Linked DNA regions of Homo sapiens. The protein of the gene in region 3 interacts with the protein of the main gene of each other region in a biochemical or structural test. Each region holds a gene or a part of one and is shown on either strand. Other genes may lie near its edges.

Evidence for each region.
Region 1: the proteins of INSR (region 3) and PTPN11 form a complex in vitro, tested with the Homo sapiens proteins (2 studies listed by BioGRID).
Region 2: of the proteins of INSR (region 3) and SYNCRIP, one has a biochemical effect on the other in vitro, tested with the Homo sapiens proteins (one study listed by BioGRID).
Region 4: of the proteins of INSR (region 3) and FRS2, one has a biochemical effect on the other in vitro, tested with the Homo sapiens proteins (one study listed by BioGRID).
Region 5: of the proteins of INSR (region 3) and PTPRO, one has a biochemical effect on the other in vitro, tested with the Homo sapiens proteins (one large-scale study listed by IntAct).
Region 6: of the proteins of INSR (region 3) and PTPRC, one has a biochemical effect on the other in vitro, tested with the Homo sapiens proteins (one large-scale study listed by IntAct).
Region 7: the proteins of INSR (region 3) and GRB7 form a complex in vitro, tested with the Homo sapiens proteins (one study listed by BioGRID).

The regions. Positions count from the first base shown.
Region 1 is NC_000012.12:112,421,947-112,425,446, reverse strand, and holds part of PTPN11 (tyrosine-protein phosphatase non-receptor type 11), read right to left. Parts: intron 1-3,500. UniProt on the Homo sapiens protein: Acts downstream of various receptor and cytoplasmic protein tyrosine kinases to participate in the signal transduction from the cell surface to the nucleus. Positively regulates MAPK signal transduction pathway. Dephosphorylates GAB1, ARHGAP35 and EGFR.
Region 2 is NC_000006.12:85,622,387-85,625,886, reverse strand, and holds part of SYNCRIP (heterogeneous nuclear ribonucleoprotein Q), read left to right. Parts: intron 1-1,774; coding exon 1,775-1,910; intron 1,911-3,199; coding exon 3,200-3,405; intron 3,406-3,500. UniProt on the Homo sapiens protein: Heterogenous nuclear ribonucleoprotein (hnRNP) implicated in mRNA processing mechanisms. Component of the CRD-mediated complex that promotes MYC mRNA stability.
Region 3 is NC_000019.10:7,165,415-7,168,914, reverse strand, and holds part of INSR (insulin receptor isoform Long preproprotein), read left to right. Parts: intron 1-820; coding exon 821-947; intron 948-2,510; coding exon 2,511-2,761; intron 2,762-3,500. UniProt on the Homo sapiens protein: Receptor tyrosine kinase which mediates the pleiotropic actions of insulin.
Region 4 is NC_000012.12:69,574,888-69,578,387, reverse strand, and holds part of FRS2 (fibroblast growth factor receptor substrate 2), read right to left. Parts: coding exon 3,433-3,500; 3' UTR 1-3,432. UniProt on the Homo sapiens protein: Adapter protein that links activated FGR and NGF receptors to downstream signaling pathways.
Region 5 is NC_000012.12:15,514,508-15,518,007, reverse strand, and holds part of PTPRO (receptor-type tyrosine-protein phosphatase O isoform a precursor), read right to left. Parts: intron 2,511-3,500; coding exon 2,390-2,510; intron 1,246-2,389; coding exon 1,052-1,245; intron 1-1,051.
Region 6 is NC_000001.11:198,715,540-198,719,039, forward strand, and holds part of PTPRC (receptor-type tyrosine-protein phosphatase C isoform 1 precursor), read left to right. Parts: intron 1-1,142; coding exon 1,143-1,301; intron 1,302-2,554; coding exon 2,555-2,763; intron 2,764-3,500. UniProt on the Homo sapiens protein: Protein tyrosine-protein phosphatase required for T-cell activation through the antigen receptor. Acts as a positive regulator of T-cell coactivation upon binding to DPP4.
Region 7 is NC_000017.11:39,744,362-39,747,785, forward strand, and holds the end of GRB7 (growth factor receptor-bound protein 7), read left to right. Parts: intron 1-191; coding exon 192-302; intron 303-524; coding exon 525-623; intron 624-740; coding exon of another isoform or gene 741-881; coding exon 882-962; intron 963-1,060; coding exon 1,061-1,177; intron 1,178-1,366; coding exon 1,367-1,427; intron 1,428-1,551; coding exon 1,552-1,639; intron 1,640-1,747; coding exon 1,748-1,841; intron 1,842-2,389; coding exon 2,390-2,536; 3' UTR 2,537-2,924; downstream 2,925-3,424. UniProt on the Homo sapiens protein: Adapter protein that interacts with the cytoplasmic domain of numerous receptor kinases and modulates down-stream signaling. Promotes activation of down-stream protein kinases, including STAT3, AKT1, MAPK1 and/or MAPK3. Promotes activation of HRAS.

The DNA.
Region 1 (3,500 bases), on a different chromosome or scaffold from region 3:
ACTTTCTACAGATTACAAGAATATTCCTCATTTCTAATCTAATTAAATTTTAATATCCTATAGTAAAAGAGTAAGTCATGCTGAAAAAAAAGGCATCAATAGGGACAAGCATTATAAGTAAAAGGCTACAAAAAAAGTTAAATTCTTGAAAAGTGTTCTAATGCATGCTACACTGTATTTCATTTAACTAGCCCCCCCCACTGATGAACATTTCAGTTGTCTCCAATATTTTGCCATCTCAACAATAATGCAATAAATATCCTACTAAATGTCAAAATTTTTTTAAAGTTGTTAGGTGGGCACAGTGGCTCACGTCTGTAATCTCCAGCACTTTGGAGGCCGAGGCGGGTGGATCACCTGAGCTCAGGAGTTTGAGACCAGCCTGGGCAACATTTTGAGACCAGCCTGGGCAACATGGCAAAACCCCATCTCTACATACACACACACACACACACACACACACACACACACACACACACACACACACACAATTAGCCTGACATGGTGGTGTGTGCCTGCAGTCCCAGCACACACACACACACACACACACACACATACACACACACACACACACACACAATTAGCCTGACATGGTGGCGTGTGCCTGCAGTCCCAGCCACTCGGGAGGCTGAGGTGGGAGAATGCTTGAGCCTGGGAGGCAGAGGTTGCAGTGAGCTGAGGTCGTGAGCCTGGGTGACAGAGTAAGACCCCATCTCAAAAAAAAAAGTTGTTAAAGCAGCTTTTTATCCTTTTTTTCCAAGCAGCTTTTTAATGGCAGTGCATAGATATGTCTTTATAAATCACTATTTTCTCATGGAGTTTCATTGGTCAGCATCTCTGCTTTGATGACAAGGCAATAAACAAAAACTACCTCCAAAAAAGACTTTCCACAAACTACTTTTACCCAAGTTCAAAGCCTCTCTCATCACTTGTCTCATCTCCCTGAATCTACTCCTGCCTCCTACAATCCTTCCTTCACAGCAGCCAGAGAAATATTTTTAAATAGATCAGCTCATGCCACTCCCCCGATCACATCCTTCTATGATTTTGCATTGCTCTAAAAATACAATCTACACTCCTCTCCATGGTCCACATGACACTAAAGACATTAAGAATCCCTATGTGGTCTGCTCCCACCTACCTCCCACCTTCCCAGCCTCACAGCTCCCACACTTGCTCTCTCCTAGCCTTCAATCACTCCGAGATCTTCTCCCACTTCAGCACTTTTGCATGTGCTGTTTCCTAAAACCTGGAATACTCAATGCCTAGCACGGTACCTGGCACAGAGTTATCCCACCATAAATAATTCTTCAATGAATGGATAGATGTTTCATTAGAGTAGGCCAGTGGGATGATAAAAACTTGAACCATTATCTTTAAAATAGACATTGTAAAGGCCAGGTACAGTGGTTCACATCTGTAATCCTAGTACTTTGGAAGGCCGAGGCAGGCAGACAGCTTGAGCCCAGGAATTTGAGACCAGCCTGGGCAACAGAGCAAGACCCTAACTCTACAAAAAAATAGAAAAATTGGACAAGTTTGATGCCACGTGCCTGTAGTCAGTCCCAGCTACTCAGGAGGCTGAGATGGGAGGATCACTTGAGCCCAGGAGGTCGAGGCTGCAGTGAGCCAAGATTATGCCACTGCAGTCTCCAGCCTGGGCAACAGGGTAAGACCCTGTCTCAAAAAAAAAAAAAAAAAAAAAAGACATTGTATGTGTGTATATACATGTATGTGTAGACAGATATACATATTACAGAAACACATACAATGTGTATTTGTGTTTATATGAGTATACAAATATACATATATACACATACATTCTAAACAGTATATTCTATACCAATACATTTCAAATTTCAGGCTTGTGTGGTAGCTCATGCCTATAATCCCAGCACTTTGGAAGGCCAAGGTGGGCAGATCACTTGAGGCCAGGAGTTCAAGACCGGCCTGGCCAACATGGTGAAACCCCATCCCTACTAAAAATATAAAAATTAGCCAGACATGGTGGCACGCACCTGTAATCCCAGCTACTCAGGAGACTGAGGCACAAGAATTGTTTGAACCCAAGAGGTGGAGGTTGCAGTGAGCCAATATTGTATCACTGCACTCCAGCCTGGGTGACTGAGTAAGACTCTATTTCAAAAAAAAAAAATTTCAAATTTCATTTTGGTACTAGCTTTATCAAATTCATTTGATGCTGGCATAAAAGTCTGTCTCCCTCTCTAAATTCAGTGCTCCTCGCGAACATGGATAGTATTTTTCCTATTTCAGTGTTGTCAAAGAGCGTCACATATACACATTTGCTCAAGGCACAAAGTCCTCCAAAATTCATAGTAATGAACTGGGCTGCATTTTAGGGCATCTGAATCCATTTCAGGGTCTCCAATCCTTGGTTGGGGTCCACAACTCCCAGAGACCTTGCCAACATCACTTTTTGCCTCTTTCTTCCTTAAAAACATTGGCGTTGGATGGCAAGTACTGTCTGTGTTTCCCAGAGGGAAGGGGAATAAGCTGAGTTTCTCTATTGTTCTGTGGCTGCCTAACAAAGTACACCACGGCCTGCTAGGACAATTACAAACATGAGTTGGCTCTGCTTTTCCAGCATCATGTGCCACTCATAACAGTCTCCACATTGACCATGGACACGAGGGGTAAGTCATCTTAGCAGTGGCCTCTGCACTTGAGCAACTCTAACCAAAAACTTGGCCTTACATCAGGACCTAACGTTAATAAAGACATCCCAGTTTCCACTGCAAAGACACAGAACTGTTATTTTTCAGCAAGGCAAGTTTATTTACTCCCGCAGGAGATAAACAAACGTGGCCACCAGGGAGAGCCCAGGACAAAATGTACTTGACCTGCAAGAGATAAACCAAAAGCCTCCAGTCTCAGAACAAGCTCAATTTTCTGCCCCTCTCAGCTCATCGTCGCGTATGGATTTCAGAGCAACAAAAACAGATGTAAAGGAGGTACCACATGCTGAAGGAAGAGTTGGAAAATACAGGCAGCTTTGTTGGTTTCACAAAGGCAGAAAAGGGCAGAGAAGCAACCTCAAAATCTAAATCCAGTACTATCACTGCTACATGATCAAGGGAGGAGTCACTTAATTGCTGAATGCCTTAGTTTTCCTACCTATGATGCTGAGAGATATCAGTACATTGAATATACTTACATTTTAATTACTGGATGCATATAAAAGCCGAACCCAAGAGGAGTTATTTTGATAATTAAGCAAAACAAAATTCAGACTACTAATTGTCATTCAGGTGTCAGCTCACACGATCACCTTCTCTAAACCACCTATCAAAACTAACTGCATTCTCCCATCCTCACATTTCTGTGGGATTTTTTCCCTCCTAGAATTTATTACTACCTGAAATTGCCCTATTTAGTCATGTGTTTGTCTGCTCTCTCTCAGCCATGAAAATAGCAATATTTTCCTATCTTACTGCTTTATCCTGCCTGGCTCATTAACTTCCTGTTGAATGAATTAATAC
Region 2 (3,500 bases), on a different chromosome or scaffold from region 3:
TGGGGGGCAAAATCACTCCTGTTGAGAACTGTTGGTCTGTGTTAACATGGAGGAGTATTTTGTTGACCCTTTTAGGATTTATGTATTGTAGTATTGGGTGGTTGAACTTAATTTACAGGTATCCAGAGGAGCTTGTATGGTAGAAGTTTCAGGGAAGGAAGGCAATTTCTTCAGAGCCATAGGAGTATAAAAATTGCATGTGGCCCAGCATGGTGGGTCACACCTGTAATCCCAGCACTTTGGGAGGCCGAGGCGAGTGGATCACAAGATCAGGAGTTTGAGACCAGCCTGGCCAACATGGTGAAACCCCGTCTCTACTAAAAATACAAAAAATAGCCGGGCATGGTGGCAGGCGCCTGTAATCACAGCTACTCGGGAGGTAGAGGGAGGAGAATTGCTTGAACCCAGGAGGCGGAGGTTGCAGTGAGCCGAGATAGTGCCACTGCTGCACTCCTGCCTGGGGGACAGAGCAAGACTCTGTCTCAGAAAAGACAAAAAAAAAAAAACCCTGTATGTTTAAGAGTTGATATAAAAAGGTATTTGAGAGAGAGAGGAGAAAGTAGCAGGAGTCATCTTTTTACTTTTTTTAATGTTGTGTCTCTGGCATAAATGTAGAGAAATAGAAGTAAACCTGGGATCAGGAGGGCCACACACTTGAATAGCCTGTACAGAATAGTGGGGTAGAAAGCAATAAATTTTTCTGAACTGGAGGTATGGTATTTGAACTTTATTAAATTTTGATTTTCTGGAGATGGGGAAGGGACAGGGAGGACTCAACTTTCTGACTTACATGTTTTCTTCTGTTATACCCGGTGTACCTAGCAAGGATGGGCATAATAGAAGAATGGTTTCTTTTGCTGTAAGGTATTTCTATAAAGTTGTATGGAAATTGATGTTGGTTCTTTAGTTTGTGTAGCTCCACGTGTAGAATAGATTTTGAGGTTAGGTGTGGGAGGATTAATCAATAATTATTGCCGCTGCTGCCGCCATTATTAGTAACAAATTTTGAGGTGTGGTTTTAACTAACCCATATAATCCACTTTTCTAGATTACTTGGATACTTTTGCACTTGGGTTTGTAAATAATACTAATTGGTGGATTTGTCACTTTGACATGTTGCTTTTTGCCTCTGCTTTCTGATAATCTGGGATATGGTTACTCGAAAATTCAATTTACTTTTTACTGTAGTTTTAAAGTTGTTTCTGTATATTTTTGCCATGACAAATCTACTTCTCTTTCTCCTTCATAATTTGTTATATGCATAATGAAAATGAAATGGGGAAAAAGTACAGTTGGATTTAGAAATAAAAGCTGTTTTTTTAGGCTTAAATATTTGAAGCCTGAAATTTCTTATTACAACTTTTGATAAGAGGAAGGGAAGATGGAAAAATAGATTTAGGTGCTGGTTAACAGAACGGCAGAGATCTTGCTGATCTTGGGATCAGTTTTCCTTGTATGAGAATAACTGGTTGATGGGATGAACTTAAGTAAAAGTTAAGTTTTTGAGGAACTGGCAGTTTTTGAATTTAAGCTGCTGCAGATCTGATTTCTAATTAATCAAGTAAAGGATTTAATAACCTTTTATTTGCATTAAATTGGTTCATGAACTTGTCCAATGGGTCTTGTTAATATAATCTGTTCCTCATAATTCCCTTGTATGGGAATTAAGGTAAACTACTTTTTAAAGGATGATTTGCTCTTGTGTATCTTTTATAATTAACTGTTCTAGTTGTATAAGTAATTTAAAAACATGATGCACTTTTTCCCCTTTCAGTATAATAATCATGAAATTCGTTCTGGAAAACATATTGGTGTCTGCATCTCAGTTGCCAACAATAGGCTTTTTGTGGGCTCTATTCCTAAGAGTAAAACCAAGGAACAGATTCTTGAAGAATTTAGCAAAGTAACAGGTAAGTTGGATTTATTTGGAATGAGGTGCAGCTTTTAATAATGAAGATTAATAGCATATTTCTGTGCGTCATGCATTGTTCTAAATACATTTATTGACTCATCGAATCCTCACTACAACTTTTGAAGTGTAGGTAACCCCATTTTTCAGATAAGAAGAACAGGCATTCAGGGATTTGGGAAATAACTTGCCAAACGTTGTACAAGTTAGTAGGGAATACAGCTAGGGTTTGAATTCATTCTGCAAAATCATTGTTCTTCCTATGTTTTGGAAGATCGTATTTCTTTGTGTGTTCTTTCTCTAGGTGTTAGTTGATGTTCTTAGTAGAATTGTTTGAATAATGATTTGATGTTCTTGAAATTACAGGAGTAGTAAGTATTGCCGTAGCAGAGTGTTTTTTTTTTTTTTTTTTTTTGGAGACAGTCTTGCTTTGTTGCCCAGGCTGGAGTGTGCTGGTGTGATCTTGGCTCCCTGCAGCCTCTGCCTCCCAGATTCAAGGGATTCTCTTGCCTCAGCCTCCTGAGTAGCTGGGATTACAGGCGCGCACCACCACACCTGGCTAATTTTTGCGTCTTTTGTAGAGGTGGGGTTTCACCATATTGGCCAGGCTGGTCTTGTACTCCTGACCTCAAGTGATCTGCTTGCCTCGGCCTCCCAGAGTGTTGCGATTACAGGTATGAGCCACCGTGCCTGGCCCATAAACAGAGTTTATATATTGTCAACATGGTAAAAAAATTTTTTGAACTGTAACAACTTTTAAGTGACAGGTTGCTTTTAGAAAATATTTTGGTCTGCCAACAGTGTCTAACAAATTATCAGCCTGTTATCAACTTTCAGGACATTGGAAATTTTTATGCAGTACTTATAACTTCTATTTTATTTGAAATAAAGCCATTGATATCTAAGGCCAGAAAAGTGCCATTAAAAATAATTTTAGTGTTTGCATAATAAGAAAAATAGCCATATTTGATCTATACTGCCATTTTCTTAGAACAATTATATGAAAATTTTTATCTGCCTCTCTGATCTAATTAGTGAAAACAAAAGTAGTCCTTACCTCTAAAAAGAGCACATGTTCTTTTCTGGAGATTTCTGTGTTGAAAAACTTGGAAACAGATTAGGAAAATAATCCGGACCTAGTTTTTGATAGTCTTTTATAAAGATGTCTAGTGAAGGAAAGAGATGATTTTTCATTTTGATATTTAAGTAGTATCTTAGATAAATCCTTTGATCCACTTGTATTTGCTAGTTATTTCATCTAATTTTCCTGGAATGGTTGCTTACTTGCAGAGGGTCTTACAGACGTCATTTTATACCACCAACCGGATGACAAGAAAAAAAACAGAGGCTTTTGCTTTCTTGAATATGAAGATCACAAAACAGCTGCCCAGGCAAGGCGTAGGTTAATGAGTGGTAAAGTCAAGGTCTGGGGGAATGTTGGAACTGTTGAATGGGCTGATCCTATAGAAGATCCTGATCCTGAGGTTATGGCAAAGGTAATGATAGTCAAGTTAAAAATATTTTTTGAGGGATTAATGGGAGAAGGGCCGGGGTTGGGGTGGGGGGAACATAAAATGAACAGTATACATTT
Region 3 (3,500 bases):
TGTAGTGCAAGGGCTGGGCATGGTGGCTCACGCCTGGAATCCCAGCACTCTGGGAGGCCGAGGCAGGCAGATCACTTGAGGTCAGGAGTTCGAGACCAGCCTGGCCAATGTGGTGAAACTCCATCTCTACTAAAAAAAAAAAATACAAAAACTAGCTGGACGTGGTGGTGGGTGCCTGTAATCCCAGCTACTTGAGAGGCTGAGGCATGAGAATTGCTTAAACCCGGTAGGTGGACTGCACTCCAGCCTTGGTGACAGAGCAAGACTGTCTCAAAAAAAATGTAGTGCAAGGAGAGAGAGCGAGGTTGGGGTGAGGTTTAGGAGAGGGTTTGTCTTCTAGGCAGAGAGAATTACTTAGATGCGTCTCTCCGATGTCTAATGATCTGCAGGGTCTCTAAACTCACTTGGCATAGGTTTATTTGCACTGGAGTTGCACCTCCTTCCAGGTCAGTCTTACAAGTCCATATGCGAGACAACGTTGTGTCAGGACAAACATCACCCTTGGAAATCCCTTCCTCCAATAACTATTGGCCGGTTGTCCTTCTTGCGCGGGTACAGACTGCGCTTATTCAGTTGACTGTCTGGCTGAGTCAAGTCATTGGCTTACGTGAGTGTGAGTGGCCAAGTTGCAAAACTGGCTCTTACCTTTGAATCTTCCCCCATTCATACTCAGCCAGGCACATGGGGAGGAGACCCTTAAGGGAATAGCAGCGTCACCTCTGCCTTCTCACGGTCCCTCCAGGAAGTGTGGGGGTCCCAGGCTTTGGTCTGAAACTACACTGAAATAGCTCATTTTTGCCTTTTGTTTTAACTTTTCCAGGTGAAAATGAGTTACTTAAATTTTCTTACATTCGGACATCTTTTGACAAGATCTTGCTGAGATGGGAGCCGTACTGGCCCCCCGACTTCCGAGACCTCTTGGGGTTCATGCTGTTCTACAAAGAGGCGTAAGTAGAAGAGTTAGAGAGACGCTGAGGAGGCGAGGGCTGGCTGGCTCTGTGCTTGCTACGTTTGTGCTCCAATCTGCCCCTCTTGGGTTCCTGTCTATCTCCCTCCTCCTCCTGGAATAAATATCTTAGGTTCCTTTTTACAATCTCACCAGTCGATGGCATGCAAAGTCAATAGTGTCTGCTTTTATCAAATGCCTAAAATGGAAGCAGACAGCTTTCCCATAGAAGCCCGGACTGGCCAGTTTCCTGGGGCAATATTCTATTTTGCCTTGCCTGTGTATGTCTCATCAGACATCCTTAGTAGTCAGGAGCTCAGTCTACTAAGTGGATGTTATCAAATGTATTGCTTATCTATTTTTCTTTTTTATCCCCAATTTTTTTTTTTTTTTTGAGACAGAGTCTTGCTCTGTTGCCCAGGGTACAGTGCAGTGGCAGATCTTGGCTCACTGCAACCTCTGCCTCCCGGGTTCAAGCAGTTCTCCTGCCTCAGTCTCTTGAGTAGCTGAGATTATGGGCATACACCATCACACGTAGCTAATTTGTGTATTTTTGATAGAGACGGGTTTTGCCATGTTGGCCAGGCTGGTCTCAAACTCCTGACCTCAGGTGATCTGCCCACCTTGGCCTCCCAAAGTGCTGGGATTACAGGCATGAGCCACCGCACCTGACCAGTAGTAATATTAATAATAGTTCTAGCCCTCAAGATTTACCTTGTGCCTTGCTGAGCACTGACACACAGTCTAATCTTATCAGTAACTTGTGAGGGAGCTCCTGCTATTACTATTATTACAGATTGAGTATCCCTAATCTGAAAATCTGAAATTTATAATGCTCCAAAATCCAAAGCTTTTTGTGGGCCGACTTGATACTCAAAGGAGATGCTTATTGGAGCATTTCAGATTTCAGATTTTTAGATTAGAGATGCTGAACCAGTACAATGCAAATTAACTAGTAAAATGCAAATATTTCAAAACCCCAAAATATCCAAAATCCAAAACACTTCTGGTCCCAAGCATTTATTTATTTATTTATTTATTTATGTTTTTGAAACAGAGTCTCCCTTTGTCGCCCAGGCTGGAGTGCAGTGGTGCGATCTCAGCTGATGCTACCTCTGCCTCCCGGGTTCAAGCAATTCTCCTGCCTCAACCTCCTGAATAGCTGGGATTACAAGCATCTGCCACCATGCCCAGATAATTTTTGTATTTTTAGTAGAGACGGGGTTTCACCATGTTGGCCAGGCTGGTCTCGAACTCCTGACTTCTGGTGATCCGCCATTCTCGGCCTCCCAAAGTGCTGGGATTACAGGCGTGAGCCACTGCACTTGGCCAAGTCTCAAGTGTTTTGAATAAGGGATGCCCAAGCTGTGTTTTTTCATTGAGATGTCAGGGTTGACAGTTCCTTTCTCTTTGGCTGTTCCCGAGTTATTTTTTCTTGTGGCATTAGATTGTTGGGTGAGTAACATGTGACCCTATGGGATGTAACTTCCCAGGCCTCATCTGCACGGCACTCAGTGTGACGGTCTTGTAAGGGTAACTGCCTTCTGCTGTTTTGTCTTGAAAGCCCTTATCAGAATGTGACGGAGTTCGACGGGCAGGATGCGTGTGGTTCCAACAGTTGGACGGTGGTAGACATTGACCCACCCCTGAGGTCCAACGACCCCAAATCACAGAACCACCCAGGGTGGCTGATGCGGGGTCTCAAGCCCTGGACCCAGTATGCCATCTTTGTGAAGACCCTGGTCACCTTTTCGGATGAACGCCGGACCTATGGGGCCAAGAGTGACATCATTTATGTCCAGACAGATGCCACCAGTGAGTGTGTCTTGGGAATGTGAATTCGTATGTGAATCAGACCTCTTGCTTTTAATAGGCTGATGCAGTGAGGTTGTATAAAATGCTCCTTGATATGGTTATTGGCTTTTTTTTTTTTTTTAGACAGGGTCTTACTTTGTCACCCAGGCTAGAGTGCAATGCAGTGGGGTGATCATGGCTCACTGCAGCCTCAAACTCCTGGGCTCAAGCAATCCTTCTGCCTCAGCCTCCTAAGTAGAAGGAACTACCAGAGTATACCACCATGTGTGGCTTTTTTTTTTTTTTTTCTTTGAGATGAAGTCTCACTCTGTCACCCGGACTGGAGTGCAATGGCATGATCTCGGCTCACTGCAACCTCCGCCTCCCAGGTTCAAGTAATTCTCCCACCTCAGCCTCCTGAGTAGCTGGGACTACAGGCATGCACCACTATACCCAGCTAATTTTTGTATTTCTTGTAGAGACAGAACGTTGCTGTGTTACCCAGGCTGGTCTTGAACCCCTGGCCTCAAGTGATCCTCCTGCCTCGGCCTCCCAAAGTCCTGGGATTAGAAGTGTGAGCCACCTTGCCCAGTCAGTTATTGGCTTTTAAAGGAGCTGGGTATTGAGGCTTATAGTTTCAGACGAGGCAGTAGCAACAAGCCACTTGATGGGAATATTTATATTTTTCATCCTATTATGAAAAATTGTCAAATATTCACAACACAGAACAAAACCCCATAGTTAGCCGCCTCCCAGCTTC
Region 4 (3,500 bases), on a different chromosome or scaffold from region 3:
TCTTTACATTCTGTAATTTCGTACCAATGCCTTTATTCAAATTTGGCAAACATCAAGGAAAAGGTAATTAGTACCATATACCTCACACATCAGAAATATGAATGAGATGCCAATACATCAGTTACTTGTGAATGATGTCTCTGATGGTATGTCTATTTCAAGAATATATGTATTTATACACACACACTACACATTGCACAAAACATTTGGGCATTATAGGTTAGGAATAGCACGGGGGAATTGGGAAGTACTTTTTCATCTGTTAAAACCTTTACCTTGAGGCAAAAATATGGCGGCACATTGTTGGGAAATTATGAAAACATAAGGCCCCTGTCCCATTTTTAATAGAACATTATTGAGGTACATTTTTATATGCTGTGCCACAGTTTTGGGGAGGGGGAGGAGATAAACACTAGCTTGACTTGTTCTATTTATAACATTGAACGCTGGAGAGGGTCAACATTAGTATCTATAAAAACAAAGATTGCTTGGCAAATTTTCCTAAGTCCCAGATATGATGTATTCTGGATATACTGAGAAGTGAAAAGCTTTTTGCTGAATCTTAAAGAGTAAAGTGCATATCTCATCACTCCACAGCAGCAGTAAATAAAAGGAAATATTTGCCAGTCTTCCTGGAGGGAGGGAAGGCACCATATTTTCATTTTTAGAAGAAGATGAAACTGGGAAATAAAACACACTAAGAAAAAACACAAGTAATACCAATATCAGTTTCCAACCCTAGCATGGGATAGATGCTGTTATGATTTGTATGGATAAAACAGTATTCTATTTGGAGGGAAAACATTAACAATGATTATATTTCCAAAACCAAAAAGAAGGATCACATGGTCTACCAACAGAATTATCTAAAATTAGATCTGCCTCAGAAAATCTGAGATATATGGCCACAATTATATGCTAATAAAATATCAATATTTCATTCTAAAATGCACCTAGTAATAGGTACATCCTTCGAGGACACAGCTTAATGCCCATTACTAAACTACTGCAAAGGACAAGTAGTATTCTAAATTACCTTTTATTAAATAGGAACACAAGTGATTTCTAGAAAATATCTAGAAATTAACACCAGTTGTATATATTTTCCTAATACTCTTATAGTACCTAAAATCAAATTCTTAGCAGACAAATTGGTCCCATTTTCCTTTTTAAAGCACATAGTATTTAAAGCATAAACTGTAATGATTATATTGGAGTTATCTAAAAAAAATAAAAACTAATTAGAATCCGGGGGAAACAATGAAAAGGATGACGGAAAGAAAGAATAAAGTACCCAACCTCCAAAATGAATAAATAGATCAGCCCTTGCATTTGGAGATTAATGTTCTGCCTTGACTGGCTGTTTCAGAAAAAAATGTGCAATGGTTCCATCATAATTCTTATTCCACATTACAAAAACTATTACATAAATTTGGCACAATTAGCAATTTACTCAGAAGAAAGGATAAGTGGAACAATATATTAAAAATGGAACCTGCATCATGGAAACTGCACACCTATACCACTGCTCTCTTTTAAGAGAACAGTGAGCACTTTAATAAGCACCAAGTTCACAGGGGAACAAAAGGGAGAAAAGAAAATTCTGCTATGCACATAGAATGATAAAATACACTGATATTGATTTATAGTAAAGACACTAAAAATGGCACTAAAACGATAAAGACACCTTTAATAATTTATTTTCTTTATAATGATCCCACTCTATTGTTCTCCTAATCCATCATTGTCCTATGATTCGGTTACTGAATAGGTTGGATGCCAATATGACTAAAACTTTTTCATGCTAAATTAACCTTAGTTATATCTGGTAGATCCAGATCATAATCTCAAACTTCCTCATATTTAGAGAAAATAGTAAAATATTTTGCAAGGTTACCTAACCTTTTCCACTCTACCTTCTCTCGTATTCTCTAGTGTTTAGGAAATTGGAACATCTTTGATTTTCCAAGAGTTTGACATATGGAGACTCTTCAGTTTATATAAACTTTAATTCATTTTAAATCCTAAATTATGATACAATCTCACTGCTACAAGACTTCCACTGTACCTGCTATGCTGGCAACAATATTAATATTTCATGGAAATCGAAGGATAATCAAAGATCCAGCTACAAGTAAAAGGACAGCAGAGCTGAGGAACACTAGAGTGGGCAGAGTACAACTGCAGCGTGTAGCTGGGGGAATTACTGCTAAAGTGCTGGGGAAGAGTGCCCACAGAGACAACACGGTACACCTTGAGGGAACTTTGCATGTTAAAAGTAGCTTCCTTTTTTTCTCAGTTTGCTAAAGAGATCACCTATGGACACAAGCAAATTTAGAATTGGAGAATGTTTTTATCAACTTGAAAAGTAAACAGCTTATAAATAAATACTGGACAAGGGCAACCCTGTTACAGACTAACAGTAAGTTCCAAATGAACCTTCAAAACCATAATTTGACAAAAATGCAAACTAAACAACAATGAACACATAATCCAATTTCAAAACTATATACAAACTCAAACATTTTAAATTGAAAAGGACATAAGGCAACAAAATAAGACATCCCAAACACCAAAGAAAAAAACTGAAGATAAATGGAAACCTAATGGCACAAATGCCTCCAGAAAACAATGTGTTGTCAACAATCTATAGGAGAAAAACTTTCAGGAGATTGTGGTTCAGATTTTCAAATGTTTTTGGGTAAAGTGACCTGAGACTGATTCTTGAGCCTATTATAATTTTAAGATATCTGGACATGCCCTTCAAATGACATCATGAGATGAGTAAATAGAAAATCTTGTCTCCTTCCTGCCTTTCAGTGCACCAACAGCAAAGCACACTCATGGACACAGGCCGCTTTCTAGTAACACTGAAGGCAAAGGAGCTGACTGGTGTAAGAGGAGGTGCGGTACTTCTGTTTCCTTTACATATGTTTTGGCTCAAGTCAAAAAGCCATTAATTAATGAAATAAAGGATTCCTCATGTTACATGCTGGAGGCCACATACTGTGAACACTGAATCTACGAGCATTACTTTCAAAGCCTATAGTTACCTGTTAGCAATGTACATTGTCAAGAGGCTTTATAAAAAGTTTTAAAAGCCAACCATGACTTAGACATGAAAGGTATGCGTTAAGTCCAGAATATTGATAAAAATCAACCAGCATGTCATTTACTTCAACTCTCATTTTAAATAGGCACTGTGAAAACGGGAATGCTGCTGTACAACGAGTAGTATATAATGAAATTAGTGTTCTTTAAGGAGTACCTGCTCTACATTAATTCCCTTTAGTTAAAGATGCACATGAAATATTCAGAAAAAAATTTTATCAGTCTATAAAAGGAGTTAGTGTTTAGAAATGAAAATGAAGCACTTGCATCTTCATTTTTAAAAACTTCACAAAGGTGCAAACAACACAATGCTTTCCAGGCTCACATGGGCAGATCAGTACTATTGTGTCTAGTTTTCCTAGATGTACCATCATCTCGTGGCAGTGCTT
Region 5 (3,500 bases), on a different chromosome or scaffold from region 3:
GGAGACTGCACACAGAGTCCCTACTGGGGTACTGCCTAGTGGAGCTGTGAGAAGAGGGTCACCATCCTCCAGACCCCAGAATGGTAGATCCACTGACAGCTTGCACTGTGCACCTGGAAAAGCTGCAGACACTCAATGCCAGCCTGTGAATGCAGCCAGGAGGGGGGATATATGCTGCAAAGCCATAGGAGTGGAACTGCCTAAGACCATGGGAACCCACCTCTTGCATCAGCATGACCTGGATGTGAGACACGGAGTCAAAGGATATCATTTTGGAGCTTTGAGATTTGACTGTCCCAGTGGATTTTGGAGTTGCATGGGGCCTGTAGCCTCTTTGTTTTGGTCAATGTTTCCCATTTGGAACAGCTGTGTCAATGCCTGTACCCCGAGTGTATCTAGGAAGTAACTAACTTGCTTTTGATTTTACAGACTCATAGGCAGAAGGGACTTGCCTTGTCTCAGATGAAACTTTTGACTGTGCACTTTCGAGTTAATTAGTTAAGACTTTTCGGGACTGTTGGGAAGGCATGATTGGTTTTGAAATGTGAGGACATGAGATTTGGGAGGGGCAAGGGGCAGAATAATATGGTTTGGTTGTGTTCTCACCCAAATCTCATCTTGAATTCCCAAGTGTTGTGCGAGGGACCCTGTGGGAAGTAACTGAATCCTGGGGGCAGGTCTCTCCCATGCCGTTCTTGTGATAGTGAATAAGTCTCATGAGATCTGATGGCTATTATAAGAGGGAGTTTTCCTACACAAGCTCTCTTTGCTTGCTGCCATCTGTATAAGACATGACTTGCTCCTCCTTGCCTTCTGTCATGATTGTGAGGCTTCCCCAGCCACGTGGAACTGTAAGTCCAATTAAACTTCTTTCTTTTGTAAATTGCTCAGTCTTGGCTATTTCTTTATCAGCAGTGTGAAAATGAACTAACACACTATGTGTATTTACAAAATAATCAAATTTATAGATAATTTCTTAAAGACACATTTGGTACATAAAGGTTTGCCTGTTCCCATAGGAAAGACTGACAGTTGGTTAAGGGAAGATTACCACGGATGCAGTTAAGGAAACAGTTGCTGCTATTTCATAGTAGGTGGTCCACTCTGATGTCATTGTAGCAGGGTTGAAATAAAACATTTCAACCACGTATTTTCTGAACACGCCTAAATAAGGTCTGGTCCAGCTCAGAACCACGGCCGTAGGACCCAAAGGATAGAGCATTAAATCCTTTATTCCTGTGGGAACTAGAAAGAAGAGGGCAGGGGGTAGAAAAAGAAAGTTAAGAAGGAATGTCTTAGCAATGGCCTCAAACTTCTACTTAATGACCCGAGTTTTCACTCTCTGATACAATACCTACCTCCCTCCCTCCCTTCCTTCCTTCCTTCCTTCCTTCCTCCCTTTCTTGCTTCCTCCCCTTCCTTCCTCCCTCCCCCTGCCCTCCCCCTTCCTTCTTCCCTCCCTCCCTCCTTTCATCTTTTCTTTTCTTTTTCTTTCTTTCTTTCTTTTCTTTCTTTCCTTTCTCTCTCTTTTTCTTTTTCTCTCTCTTTCTCACTCTCTTCTTTCTCACTCTCTTTCTCACTTTTTCTCCTTTCTCTCTTTCTTTCTTTCTCTCTCTCTCTCTTTCGTTCGTTCTTTCTTTCTTCTTTTCTTTCTTTTCTTTTTTTTTTTTTGAGACAGGGTCTTGCTATGTTACCAAGGCTAGATTAAAACTTCTGGGCTTGGCTGGGTGTGGTGGCTCATGCCTGTAATCCCAGCACTTTGGGAAGCCAAGGTGGGCAGATCACGAGGTCAGATCGAGACCATCCTGGCTAACACGGTGAAACCCCGTCTCTACTAAAAATACAAAAAATTAGCCAGGCATGGTGGCATGTACCTGTAGTCCCAGCTGCTCAGGAGGCTGAGGCAGGAGAATTGCTTGAACCTGGGAGGCAGAAGTTGCAGGGAACTGAGATTGCACCACTGCATTCCAACCTGGGTGACAGAGCGAGACTCTGTCTCCAAAAAAAAAAAAAAACAAAACAAAAAAAAAACCAGACAAACAAAACAAAAAAAACAAACAACTTCTGGGCTCAAGCAGTCCTCCCACCTCAGCCTCCCAAGTAGCTGGAACTGTAGGTGTGTGCCACGGCACACAGCTTTACTCTTGTTGTATAATCATTGAAAACTAAAGTAAGAATGTTTGCCTCTGATTTTTTCCCCAAGTAATAAATATTAAGAATGTTTTCCAAGTATACAATTCTTGTTATTTATTACTCTGAAGGTAGCATATTGGATGAACTAATATGGACCTTCCAAATACGATGATAATGATTTGAGCTCGCACATTGCACCCCTCCGTCAATACCCTAATATATAGGTCAGTCATTCTTCTTGTGGCTAGCAACTTACCAATAGCAAATGTCACAGGATCTGAAGGTGGTCCAATCAAAGGGCCTTTCCTTAGGTATATTACAACCTGGTACTGGGCACCAGGAACCAGATTTTCAATAATAGGTTTGCTTGAGTTCACCTTTAAACCAAACACCCAATAAGATTTATTTAGAGCTGGGATTTCAGAATGTTACACAGAGGCTGGTATAATATTCAGAGACTCTTTTTGGAATCACAGATGACTTTGAAATCCAGAAGGCTTTACTGAAGCTGTCAGATTCCAAAATTAGGATGATTTATAGTTTATGTGAACATTGAAGGGAACCTAGAAGATTCAAATTTTGTCTGTTCTAAGCCCTGTGAACTGCTTTATACCCATCAGTGTCAATTATAACTATGCACACTAGAGACACATCAGCCTCTAACCATAATCAAATCAGCAATACCATGAGGATAGTTTGACATTCTAAATTGTGGTGTCAGCTGATTACATACAAAGGTCAGTACGGAAATGTCTTTAGTCTCTTGTCACTTAGAAGCATATAATATCTAATTATAGAAATGAAAATGACCACCGGGAACAGTGGCTCACGCGTGTAATCCCAGCACTTTGGGAGGCCAAGGCAGGCAGATCATTTGAAGTCAGGAGTTCAAGACCAGCCTGACGAACATAGTGAAACCCTGTCTCTACTAAAATACAAAGAAAATTAGCCAGGCATGGTGGCAGGTGCCTGTAATCTCAGCTACTCAGGAGGCTGAGGTAGGAGAATTGCTTGAACCCAGGAGGCAGAGGTGCAGTGAGCCGAGTTTGTGCCACTGCACTCCAGCCTGGGCAACAGAGTGAGACAAGCTCTCAAAAAAACAAAAATAAAAAATAAATAAAATAAATAAATAAATAAATGGAAATGACCTTAGAGATTACCTAGTCCAAAGTGCTCATTTAATAAATAAAGTAAAGCCAGAGAATGGCCAAGGTCATATATTTAGATGCAGTGTTGGGACTGGAAGCCTAGTGTTGGGACCTTTAATCTACACTATGGGCAAGTCACTGTGCTAAGCATCGAGATATCCTGGTAAGCACCCTGCCAGGCTGTTGTAGCCCCCTAAAATAATATTGTAGAGAACATTT
Region 6 (3,500 bases), on a different chromosome or scaffold from region 3:
TTTAAAGGATTATTTTTCAAAAGTTACTGAAAGCAATAGGCACCTTTCAAGACCACCATGATGTTGCTGGAAATTATTTTGTGTAATGCCTTTTATTTTTTTAAGAAAAAAAAAACAGAACAAATTGCTTAATCTCTCTGTGGCTCAGTTTTGTCATCTGTAAAATCAGATGATAGTGAGTACCAACTAATAGTTGCAGTGATGGTTAAATTAATTATTTCATGTATACCCCTTGAAACAGTGCTTGGCACATACAGTGAGTTATTATTTTTAAAAATCGTTATTGATATTATTATTACTGTTGCTGCTATCCAGAAACATGTTGCCACTCTAATCATCCTCTTTCCTGATGTCACTTGGCTACTCAAAAATAGCAGCAGCTGGTGATTTTTTTACTTAACAAGTGCTAAGTCTTCTGCCTGAGTGTGAAAACACACTTAGACACTGTCCTACCTCTCATATGCCTCCCCAGCCAGAGCTGTTGTCCTGATCAGGTTTGTCACTAAACTCAAAAACATTCCTTCTTCCGTTTGTAATATTTTCTTTTCTCCCTTACATGTATTCAGTTCCACTTACCTTTCAATGAACAGCTGAATTCCACTTCCGGCATGAAACTCCCTCATTCTCACAGCTCCCGTTAATTACTGTAGTGTCCAAATTACTATGATAGAATCAACCCAATGACTGATGATCAAATGGATTCTGCATCTAACATTCAAAACAGTAGCTAATACCGATGTTCAAAGTTTGGAGGTTACATATCAGAAAAGGTTTTCTAAAAAAGAATCATTCTGAAACATGCAACTCAAGACTTACAGTATACACTGGGGGCTGTGTTTTCTCAGAAACAAAAGAGATCGTCTTCACAAATGAATCTGAACTTATTAAATATTTTATGTACCAAATTAATGATATAAAACCATAATTTTTCAATATTTAATTTTACCAATGATAATTGAGTTTGTTCAATACACTGGCTGATAATTGTAGGTACTTTTGAGTATCAAGGATGTACTTATTTTTCAATCACTCAATAGTTTGGAGTTCACTTGGAACAATGTGATGTAGAGACCAAATTAATTAGGTACGTGGTAGTACTGACTTTTAACGACTTACTAATTTTTTTTCACATTTTTCCTCAGAAAAAGATTGCCTCAATCTGGATAAAAACCTGATCAAATATGATTTGCAAAATTTAAAACCTTATACGAAATATGTTTTATCATTACATGCCTACATCATTGCAAAAGTGCAACGTAATGGAAGTGCTGCAATGTGTCATTTCACAACTAAAAGTGCTCGTAAGTTATATGTTTTAATGCTTCTTTCCATAAATGGTAAAAAGCAAGGTATGAACTTTTTAGCCTACAATATTTCTATCTTTATTCTAGCAAGCACATTTACCTGGCACATTTGTTAACATCTAGGGCTTATAAACACGTAAAATCTAAAAGTTTAAAAACCGTTATCCTGGATTCTCTCTCTTCTTCAGATATAGTCATAGAATTTTAAGGACAAAGCATAAAAGCATCTTAATTGGCATCAGTTTGTGCAATTTCATGCAGTTAAGTACTTAACCAACTTAGATTAAAACATTCACTGTTTGCTGTTGTCTTTACTATCTGGAAATATTAATTGTAATCAGAAACCTAACAATGTCTCATAAAGCATTAGCCTACTAACCTCTGTTCATCTGATAAAACATTTCATAAAATGTAATATTTTATTAGCATTTTCTTCTCTTCGTTACCCTCAACTACTTACTATTCTATTTTATGTCACATTATCCATTTAAGGTTTCCTTTCAATGGCATTTGGCTCTTGCCACTAGTATAATCTCTCCATAGTTTCCAGGCCCAAAGTTAGATCTGCTTCTGGGGCACATGTTAACCTCCATCGAGGACAGGGAAGAAGAAATGCCGTGTTTTAAGGCAGCATCTATAGCTCCAGAGACCCTAACGGGCACTAGACTTGTGAAGAAATATTGTGCTATTTGGGGCTGAATATAAGACACTTTTAAGGTCATTTAGGTTTTGGTTTGAAAAGTTCTGGTCCTGGAGCTCTATGCTTTTGTTGTTTTCCTGAGTTTCTGTATCACAGAAAAAGAAGACAATTTGTTTCTGTTCCTGAAGAACCCATCTAGGTGTTTACCAGGATAACATTAGCACTCCGGGAAAGAAGGGTCTAGATTGTGTAATAGGACTTGGAGGTTTCCCAATCAACAACATTTTTCCTCTCCTCTCCCCAAACTTCCCCCTCTTCCCCACTCCCTTCCCTTTTTCTCTATTCTCTAATTCTACACAGTCTCCTTCAGGGATTGCAATAACTCTCATGGCTTCATGTACAACCTATATGCTAATACTTACTGAATAAATGAGTGATTTATTCTTCAGGGTTTTGATATTGTTTTTTAATTTATGTACTATCATAACTTCCTTATTTATAACCCCCAAGCTAACACTTAAAATACTTTATACTATATCCAAGTATTGTCAAGTAATTTACATATGCATCTATTAAATTATTAATAACAAATCTTTCTTCATTTTGATAGCTCCAAGCCAGGTCTGGAACATGACTGTCTCCATGACATCAGATAATAGTATGCATGTCAAGTGTAGGCCTCCCAGGGACCGTAATGGCCCCCATGAACGTTACCATTTGGAAGTTGAAGCTGGAAATACTCTGGTTAGAAATGAGTCGCATAAGAATTGCGATTTCCGTGTAAAAGATCTTCAATATTCAACAGACTACACTTTTAAGGTAAAAGTATGCTCTCTACATTACTATAGTACCAACTACATTATAATGATTGATTCATAGTACTTAAATAACTTTAAGACCACTGCTCACATGAGATTGAGAAGCTCTGATGTGTAATGGAATCACACTTAAAGAGTCTCAAATATTTGACTCTAAAATTTTTATTCCTATAGCTCAAGTCAGTGGTTTAAAGCAAATGTTTCATTGGAATATTTTAGAACTTCAATATGACTTAATTATAGCTAAATTATTGCTTCTGTGTTAAGAAGCACAACACTTTATGCACAACAGATTATTACTTTACCAAATCTACCTTTTCTTTACTTTGGCTTTTTATCTTTATTAATGTGGAATTTTTCAATTGCAAAATTTCACAGGTACCTTGAGGTTAGGAAATATTTGAAATAAACACTAGACAATACTAGTGAGCATACAGAATTTAAAACACTCATTATCTCACTGTCTACTGATCGTATTTTGTACATGTAACTTCATAATATACACATTTATATGCACTTAACACGTATTATCAACATTCTGAGTACACAGTTTTCAAAATACAGTTTTAAAACTGTATTTTTAATATATCACTATATCACACACACCTTTCTATGTTAAATATTTAACTACTATGTAGTTTTTAATGCCTGTATAATATTCTATGTATGGCTTTATCACATTCTATTAACTATAACTATGTTGGTCTCTAATATAAACAACATTCCGATAACACACTT
Region 7 (3,424 bases), on a different chromosome or scaffold from region 3:
CACCTGCCCAGGGAGGTAGCAGGAGAAAAGATGATCTTAGTTTAAGTCCTGGCTCTACTTCTATTTGCTGTGTGACCCTGGGTATTCCCCTGCCCCTCTCTGGTCCTGAAATCTCCCCACCTGGCTTGTGGGGGGAGGTAATAGTGGGCGGGATCTACCTGTACCAAGTCCTGCTCACTCATGCTGCTTAGGATCCGAGGCACCTGCAGTACGTGGCAGATGTGAACGAGTCCAACGTGTACGTGGTGACGCAGGGCCGCAAGCTCTACGGGATGCCCACTGACTTCGGTTTCTGTGTCAAGGTGAAGACCTGGCCAGGCCTGGCCCCTGGCCTGGGGAAGCAGGAACTGCTCAGGCCCCTGGATCCTGCCCGGGGCTTCTGAGCCCCAATTCAGACACCTAGACTCCTCTCCCTGCACCCTGGCCTGCTGGAAACTCCTGGATTCAGCTCTGCTATGTGGAGCAGGGGCAGACATGTGGTCCTAAAGGCAGATATGGGACCAGTCAATTTCCTCTCTCTGCAGCCCAACAAGCTTCGAAATGGCCACAAGGGGCTTCGGATCTTCTGCAGTGAAGATGAGCAGAGCCGCACCTGCTGGCTGGCTGCCTTCCGCCTCTTCAAGGTGAGACCCTGGGAGTGGCATGGGGGGCTGGCCTGGCCAGAGGGATCCCCAGCTCTGCCCTCAGGAAGTCTCAGGAATGAGGAGGGCATCACAGCCTTGCTCTCTGATAACCCCCAGTCCAAGCCTGAAGTTATAGGAAGTGCCCATCGAAGGCAGAAACACAGCCCTGGTCTGGGCAAGTCCTGGTCTGAGGGGGGCGTCACAGCCACGCCCCCAGGACCTCTCGACCTCAAGCTCTCTTTCTCTCCCCACCCCCAGTACGGGGTGCAGCTGTACAAGAATTACCAGCAGGCACAGTCTCGCCATCTGCATCCATCTTGTTTGGGCTCCCCACCCTTGGTGAGTGTGCCCAAGGGGATGGGAGGGTGGGTATGCAGGCCCTGTCTTACGGGTACCTGGGCCCTGTTCTGACCTCTCTCCTCTCCTTCCATCTCCAGAGAAGTGCCTCAGATAATACCCTGGTGGCCATGGACTTCTCTGGCCATGCTGGGCGTGTCATTGAGAACCCCCGGGAGGCTCTGAGTGTGGCCCTGGAGGAGGCCCAGGCCTGGAGGGTGAGGCCTGCTGTGTGTGTGTGTGTTTGTGCTGGGGACCCACTCTCTGGGTGGGATCCCTGAAATAGGAGGGAGGAAGAGAGGGCGGGGGGAGGCCCCTGGCTGGGAAGAAGTGCTCTACCTTCCTGAGGTGCTGGGTAATGCCCCCAAGCACGCCCCGACTCTCCCGTATCTCCCACTGCTCCACAGAAGAAGACAAACCACCGCCTCAGCCTGCCCATGCCAGCCTCCGGCACGAGCCTCAGTGCAGGTGGGTGACGGCCCCGAGTCCTGGGGCGGGGGCTGCCTCAACTTCTCTTTGTATTCCCAGTGGGGAGTAGATGGTATAGGGGTCCCCTCCCCAAAGTGACCGCCCATGTCCTTCCCCACCACAGCCATCCACCGCACCCAACTCTGGTTCCACGGGCGCATTTCCCGTGAGGAGAGCCAGCGGCTTATTGGACAGCAGGGCTTGGTAGACGGGTAAGGGGCAGGGCCGGGCAACAGACCCAGGGATAAGAGAGACTGGGGTCCAGGTGGCAGCCATGGTCCTTGGGTAGTAATGCTGCCCCATCTCCTGTCTTCTGGCAGCCTGTTCCTGGTCCGGGAGAGTCAGCGGAACCCCCAGGGCTTTGTCCTCTCTTTGTGCCACCTGCAGAAAGTGAAGCATTATCTCATCCTGCCGGTGAGCTTCCCTGCGTCCCCGGAGTCCTGCAATGAGACACAGGACTCCCAGCAACCTGTCCTCCTCACCAGGCCCCTCCAGAGGCTCCCTGGCCCCCAGTGCGTCTCCCTTTTCCCTGCACAAGAAGTGGGAGGCTGAGTGCGGTGGCTCACACCTGTAATCCCAGCACTTAGGACGGCCAAGGTGGGAGAATGGCTTGAGCCCAGGAGTTCGAGACCAGCCTGGGCAACACAGGGAGACCCCATCTCTACAAATAATTTAAAAATGAGCCAGGCATGGTGGTGCACACCTGTAGTCCAGCTACTCAGGAGGCTGAGGTGGGAGCATTGCTTGAGCCCAGAGGGTCAAGGCTGCAGTGAGCCATGGTGGCACCACCACACTCCAGCCTGGATGACACAGTGAGAAAACTGTCTCAAAAAAAAAAAAAGAAAGAAAAAGAAAAAGAAAAAAGAAAAGAATAAAAGGAAATGGTGGGGCCCTGGCCCAGGAGGGAGCTTCCCAAGCCTCGGGCCCCTCCCTGAACTTCCACCCCCTTTACTGTACCCCAGAGCGAGGAGGAGGGCCGCCTGTACTTCAGCATGGATGATGGCCAGACCCGCTTCACTGACCTGCTGCAGCTCGTGGAGTTCCACCAGCTGAACCGCGGCATCCTGCCGTGCTTGCTGCGCCATTGCTGCACGCGGGTGGCCCTCTGACCAGGCCGTGGACTGGCTCATGCCTCAGCCCGCCTTCAGGCTGCCCGCCGCCCCTCCACCCATCCAGTGGACTCTGGGGCGCGGCCACAGGGGACGGGATGAGGAGCGGGAGGGTTCCGCCACTCCAGTTTTCTCCTCTGCTTCTTTGCCTCCCTCAGATAGAAAACAGCCCCCACTCCAGTCCACTCCTGACCCCTCTCCTCAAGGGAAGGCCTTGGGTGGCCCCCTCTCCTTCTCCTAGCTCTGGAGGTGCTGCTCTAGGGCAGGGAATTATGGGAGAAGTGGGGGCAGCCCAGGCGGTTTCACGCCCCACACTTTGTACAGACCGAGAGGCCAGTTGATCTGCTCTGTTTTATACTAGTGACAATAAAGATTATTTTTTGATACACCTATGAGTTCTGTCTGGCAAGGCCTGGCTGGCTGAATCAAGAAGGGAACCAGAGCTGGACGTGGTGGCTCATGCCTGTAATCCCAGCACTTTGGGAGGCCAAGGTAGGAGAATTGCTTGAGTCCAGGAGTTTGAGACCAGCCTGGGCAACATGGCAAGACCCTGTCCCTACAAAAAATAAAAAAATGAGCCGGGCATGGTGGTGTGCACCTGTAGTCCCAGCTTCTCAGGAGGCTGAGGTGGGAGGATCCCTTGTTCCTTGAGCCTGGGATGTCAAGGTTGCAGTGAACTGAGATTGTGCCGCTGCACTCAGCCTGAGTGACAGAGTGAGACCCTGTCTGGAAAAAAAAAGAGGGGAGACCTGGAGAGGTGGGCACCTGTGGAGGCCTTGGTGGAAGTGTCAAATGGATCGAGGCCATGTCTCAGCCTGCCTGGATGTTCCTCAAGGGCAGGAGTGGTTATCTGAGAGTCTCCAGTGCCCACCATGCAGCTTGACACAT